Regions from separate parts of the Homo sapiens genome. Here region 2 is linked to region 1. Evidence: fine-mapped expression QTL. Tissue or cell type: esophagus muscle. Region 1 holds a variant in brackets; the other region holds the start of a gene. All regions are shown on one strand. Distances are from middle to middle.

What was found.
Region 2: it holds the start of PDK3, and the variant in region 1 is fine-mapped to the expression of PDK3 in esophagus muscle (GTEx, PIP 0.97).

The regions. Positions count from the first base shown.
Region 1 is chrX:24,490,197-24,493,106 of GRCh38, forward strand. The region is part of intron 1 of PDK3 (pyruvate dehydrogenase kinase 3); the gene reads left to right. Among named protein-coding and RNA genes, the nearest start is that of PDK3, 26 kb to the left of the region's middle. RefSeq lists an enhancer at 1,038-2,001. The variant G/A (reference allele first, on the strand shown) is at 1,481.
Region 2 is chrX:24,463,544-24,466,453 of GRCh38, forward strand. It overlaps PDK3 (pyruvate dehydrogenase kinase 3), which reads left to right and starts at 1,743. Exons shown (of 11, transcript NM_005391.5): 1 at 1,743-2,018. The coding sequence starts at 1,913. RefSeq lists a silencer at 1,484-1,803.

The sequences.
Region 1 (2,910 bases):
CGAACTCCTGGCCTCACATGATCTTCCCATCTCAGCCTCCCAAGTAGCTAGGATTACGGGCGTGAGCCACTGCCTCTGGTTTAAATGTTAAGCACATGTTAACCCTCACCAAATCTCTGTGAAGTAGATACTGCTCTTTTTTTATAGGTGGTTACAATGAAGTTTAGAAGTGTAAAGAAACTTACCCCTGCTCATGAAGCTTGTGAATGCTCTAGTCAAGATTCAAACCCTGACCTTTGTCATCGAACTTCAGCACCTGACCTTTGTCATCAACGCCCCGCAGGACCATAAGCTTTTCTCTGAATCCTGAACTCAAAAAACTCTGAAAATTGAATTTCTTTTTCATATATTTGCTGCCACAACTCATTTTGTGGCAAAACCAGACCTGAACTGACTTGATTCCATAGTCCTTATCCTACTTACTGGAAATGTTCACGTATTTCACTGCAGCTATGTTGTGGCTCTCTAATACTCTGTATTGTACAATGTATGGTATAGACTCCTTTTTACCTTCCTAAAATTGAAAAACCTTTAAATTCTGAAACCATCTAGATCTGCAACTTCTAGAGAAGAGATGAGAAGCTGACTATGGCCACCTCACACCTGCCAGCCAGCTCTCACTGCTCACAACATGCTCGTATCCTGTGACTCCTAACAGGCTGCCAACTTGGAAATTTAAACATGTATACTTTCATTACCCTCAAAAACTCATAATTGTGAAAAAATTATTAGTTCATACTGATACTACCAGTTTCAGTTTAACACCAGAATTCTTCTACTTCTTCCCTATTCCAGAACTTCCTTTTTCCTCTTAAAGAAAAAAAAAAACTGGCTAGACATGGTTGGTGGCTCACACCTGTAATCCCAACAGTTTGGGAGGCCGAGGTGGGCGGATCACCTGAGGTCAGGAGTTCAAGACCAGCCTGGCCAACATGGTGAAACCCTATCTCTTTGTAAAAATACAAAAATTAGCCGGGCATGGTGGCGGATGCCTTTAATCCCAGCTACTCCAGAGGCTGAGGCAGGGAGAATTGCTTGAACTCGGGAGGTGGAGGTTGGGTGACAGAGCGAGACCCTGTCTCAAAAAAAAAAAAAAAGAAAAAAGAAAAAAAAATTATCTGATACTTGTTAAAGATGGTAGGGAAGGCTTTATTCAAGAGGGACCACTACAGTGGGAGTTTTGCAATAGTGGGGAGAGATCAGGTTGAACTCCTAATGCAACAAGGACAAGTGGAAATTTATAGCCAAGGAGCAGAGTGTGGGTCAATGGGTGGAAAGTTACTAAGAGGAAAAATCCAGGTTGGAGGGGATTCTTGTTGAAGGCAGGCCAGCATGATAAGATATCGAGGGTAGGGGGATCAGACACCAAGGGTAGGGGATTTTCACTAAAATGACTCAGCAGGATTTTTGCTGAGACTGGACTAAGCAGGTCAAGATAGAACCCAAAGTCGAGGCCTAGTCAGAAAGAGGACTCAGAGCC[G/A]GGCACGGTGGCTCATGCCTGTAATCCCAGCACTTTGGGAGGCTGAGACGGGAGGATCGCTTGAGCCCAGGAGTTCGAGACCAGCCTGGGCAACATGGCGAAACCCCCTCTTTACTAAAAATACAAAAATTAGCCAGCTGTCCCACCTACCTGGGAGGCTGAGGTGGCAGGATCACTTGAGCCCAGGAGGTTGAGGTGGTAGTAAACCGTGATTGTACCACTGCACTGCAGCCTGGGTGACAGAGTGAGACCCTGTCTCCAAAAGCAAACAAACCCAGAAGAACCGGTTTCAAGTTTGGTCAAAGGAGAGAGTCTTTGTCATCCCACAGTGAGAACATCAATGTTTCTTTTGTGATTTAAAGATAATTTCCTTTCTGTTTAGCCAGGATGCAAAGTATTTTTCCTGGCATGTGAAAAGCTAGACTTTTATTTTAACTTAGATAATAGGGAATTCATTTTATAATGAGATTCACTGTGATAAATATCAGCAATTTTATTGCATTTAAAATTAAAATTATATTCATCCAGAACCTTTTAGGAATAATATACAGATGCTCCTTGACTTACAGTGGGGTTACATCCTGATGAATCCATCATAAGTCGAAAATATTGTAACTCAAAAATGCACTTGGCCAGGCACAGTGGCTCATGCCTGTAATGCCAGCACTTTGGGAGGCCAAGGTGGGTGGATCACTTGAGGTCAGGAGTTCGAGACCAGCCTGGCCAACATGATGAAACCCTATCTCTACTGAAAACACAAAAATTAGCCAAGCATTGTGACGGGCGCCTGTAATCCCAGCTACTCGGGAGGCTGAGGCACGAGAGCCGCTTGAACCTGGGGGGTGGAGGTTGCAGTAAGCGGAGATCATGCCACTGCACTCCAGCCTGGGTGACAGTGAGATTCTGTCTCAAAACAAAAAAGCCCTTAATAATTAGATAAACCCATCATAAAGTGAGAAGATTAAACAATCAAAAAATCATAAGTTGAACTGTTTTAAGTTGGGGACTGTCTCTATATTATTTGAAGCAAAATGACCAGAGCTGGCTGGGCGCGGTGGCTCATGCCTGTAATCCCAGCACTTTGGGAGGCCGAGGCGGGTGGATCACGAGTCAGGAGATGGAGACCATCCTGGCTAACACAGTGAAACCCCGTCTCTACTAAAAATACGAAAAATTAGCCAGGCGTGGTGGTGGGTGCCTGTAGTCCCAGCTACTTGGGAGGCCGAGGCAGGAGAATCACTTGAACCCAGGAGGCGGAGGTTGCAGTGAGTCGAGATCATGCCATTGCACTCCAGCCTGGGCGACAGAGCAACACTCCGTCAAAAAAAAAAAAAAAATGACCAGAGTCATTTTAAATGTTAATTGCCTAAGGCCAAATGAATGTGTATAGAATAGATGTTGGAAGGTCATTGTGGGGGCATTACACCCCT
Region 2 (2,910 bases), 27 kb before region 1:
TACTTCTACCAAGATGAAGATGACCAAGATGTTCTTGAAAATCCAAAAGTCTAGAAGACCACTGGATGTCTTTTTTTTTGAGATGGAGTCTTGCTCTGTCGCCCAGGCTGGAGTGCAGTGGCACGATCTCGGCTCACTGCAAGCTCCGCCTCCCAGGTTCATGCCATTCTCCTGCCCCAGCCTCCTGAGTAGCTGGGGCTACAGGGGCCCGCCACCACGCCCGGCTAATTTTTCGTACTTTTAGTAGAGCTGGGGTTTCACCACGTTAGCCAGGATGGTCTCGGTTTCCTGACCTCGTGATCCGCCCGCCTCGGCCTCCCAAAGTGCTGGGATTACAGGCGTGAGCCACCGCACCTGGCCGAGGTCTTTTACTGTGTATGTTACTTTTCTTTACATTCAGAGTAGAGATGCAACTATTTTATTAAGCAAAGAATTGGCTGCATAAACGTCCACTGAAGGCACAAAAGCTAAATAGCTACCCACCAATAATCTCATTCAGTGAGAAAACTAGTCCAATCAGAGACCCAAGGAGTGGCTTCCAGTCACATTTGTACCTTTCCTTAAAGAACATTCTTCCTGTCCTTTTAGTTACATATGTTTATGTTTACATATTGCCAAAAAAAAAAAAAAAGCCAAGGTTTGGTGGAAATGGCTAAAGTAAGCTGTACTTTATTCACTCATAATAGGAAATAACAATTTCATATACTGAGCCCTGAGTTCAAGTTCACTTTTTTTTTTTTTTGAGAGGGGGGTCTGGGTATGTTGCCTAGGCAGATCTTGAACTTTTGGGCTCACGTGATCCTCCCACCTCCGCCTGCAGGGTCGTTGGGACTATAGGTGCATGTCACCATGCCAGGCTCTCAAGTTCACTTGAGATAAAGAATACCCAACACTGTGTAAGCATAGACTCCTGTCCAAAAGTGGTGGTGAAGCGTGAAGGGGGCTGTCCTATGGTGGTGGTGTAGAGAAGGGGTATGAAAGAAAGTGCCAGTGACCTTACATTTGATCCTTTCCAATGGTAGTAGTGGGGTGGGGGGGTATGAAACAGAGTCAGTGACCTTGCAATTATCCTGTCCACTGGCATTGGGGAGGTAGGGGGTGTTATTGACCCTTGACCTCACAATGGATCCCGTCCAACGGTGGTGGTGGGGGGACATGAAATGCAATCAGTCACTTAATCTTGTGCGGGAAGGAGGGGAAAGGAACCACGAAAAAGAGAATCAGCGAACTAACAATCCAGTCCAAAGGTGTTCCAAAGGTGTTCTCTTGGGAGTCAGGCAGGGAGGTGGGGGTGGGGCTGGGCCACGAAACAGAGTCAGTCTAGTTAGGCTGTAAAATCTAAGTGTCAGGATGCAGCGAACGGCAAGTCCTCCTCCCGGAAAAGGCGCCTGCGGTTGAGAAGGGTCTTGAGCAGCGCGGAGGATCGGATTCCGGGCTCCTGGCCTCTTCCCGGTCCGCGGGCACCTCGGCTACCTTTCGGCAGCGGAGAACCCAGCCAGAGGCGGAGCTGAAAGCGGCTGCACTTGCTGGGCTGGGCTGAGTCCCATGAGCCAGGGAGGGGGGTCTCTGGCGCCGCGCCCGGACAAAACACAAACGTCACAGAGGCAGCGGCGGCCAATCAGTGGAGGGCGCGCGCGGCCGCGTGCCCCTCGCGCTCCTCGCCTCCCCTCGCGCGCCGCGTACGTGCAGCAACCGACTCCGCCCAGCGAGGCGGAGCCTAGGGAAGCCGCGGGCGGCCCGCCGCTGTCCTGGAGCTGCTGCTGCTGCTGCGGCGGCTGCACCGGCGGCGCCGAGGCCGAGATCGAGGCCGGGGTGCGCGCTTCGCAAACGTGCCCTATCCGTGCGGCTTGGCTGCGCCAGCCCTTGCGGCCACCCGGGCGTCTAGGCGGGTCTGTGCGCCGCCCGGGCGAGGATGCGGCTGTTCCGGTGGCTGCTGAAGCAGCCGGTGCCCAAGCAGATCGAGCGCTACTCGCGCTTTTCGCCGTCGCCGCTCTCCATCAAACAATTCCTGGACTTCGGTGAGTACGGGGCCAAGGGTCCCCATGGGCCCGGGGCCGCCGCCATTCGGGCTGCCACCCCGGATCTCCGCAGCTTCGGGGTAAAGTCTGTGGGAACCGCAGGCGGGGCTAGGGAATATCCGGGGGGCTCTCCTGGGGCTCGGATTTCGGGGCGCGGAGGGGCAGGGCCTGGCCCCCTCGCACCCAGCCTGGGACTTACCCGGAGACACAGAAACGGCGTCTCATTGCAGGACCCTCATCGCAGGCGAGACTCCCCAAACCTGCGGTCGTTAGCTTCAAATCTGCTTGACACAAACCTCACAGCCCTTAAAACTTCAGAACGAGATGTGGGTGGCTTTTTAATGTTTTTATTTTTAGAATTTTTTTTTTTTGGTTGGGTAAGAACTGTTTAGAAATACCTTGAGGTTGAATAAATTATGCAATGGCATTTTGTTCCTTTTCTGCTCTAAGGTGTTGCTGTGTGGCTGGAGTGGCAGGACTCGAACTGTTGTCTTCATCAGGTTATGTTAAATCAGTTAGAGGCCTGGCCTGCAGACGCCTTAGATGCTTGGGAAGAGCGGACGTCTGGGATCCTAGCATCAGAGCAGGGTCTAATACAACTCTGGCTTTAGTGCCAGCACCTTTCGTTTCTCTTCTCCATTGGTGTCCCACCCACATTCTCCCTGTCCGGTGGGCTGGTGGGCGGCTTTCACGGATTGAGGTGGGACCAAAGAAGATTCGGGTTCCCAGCCTGCCTCAGGCCTAGCTGAGATGGGAATAGATTCCACCACCTTCTGTTAACTGAATCATGTTTCCCCAGAAAACGAAGGAGCTGGTTGTGAAACACCTAAAAGTAAAACGCATGCATTGAGGTATCAGAATGGAACTCAGCATCCCTGGAGGAAAATCAAAT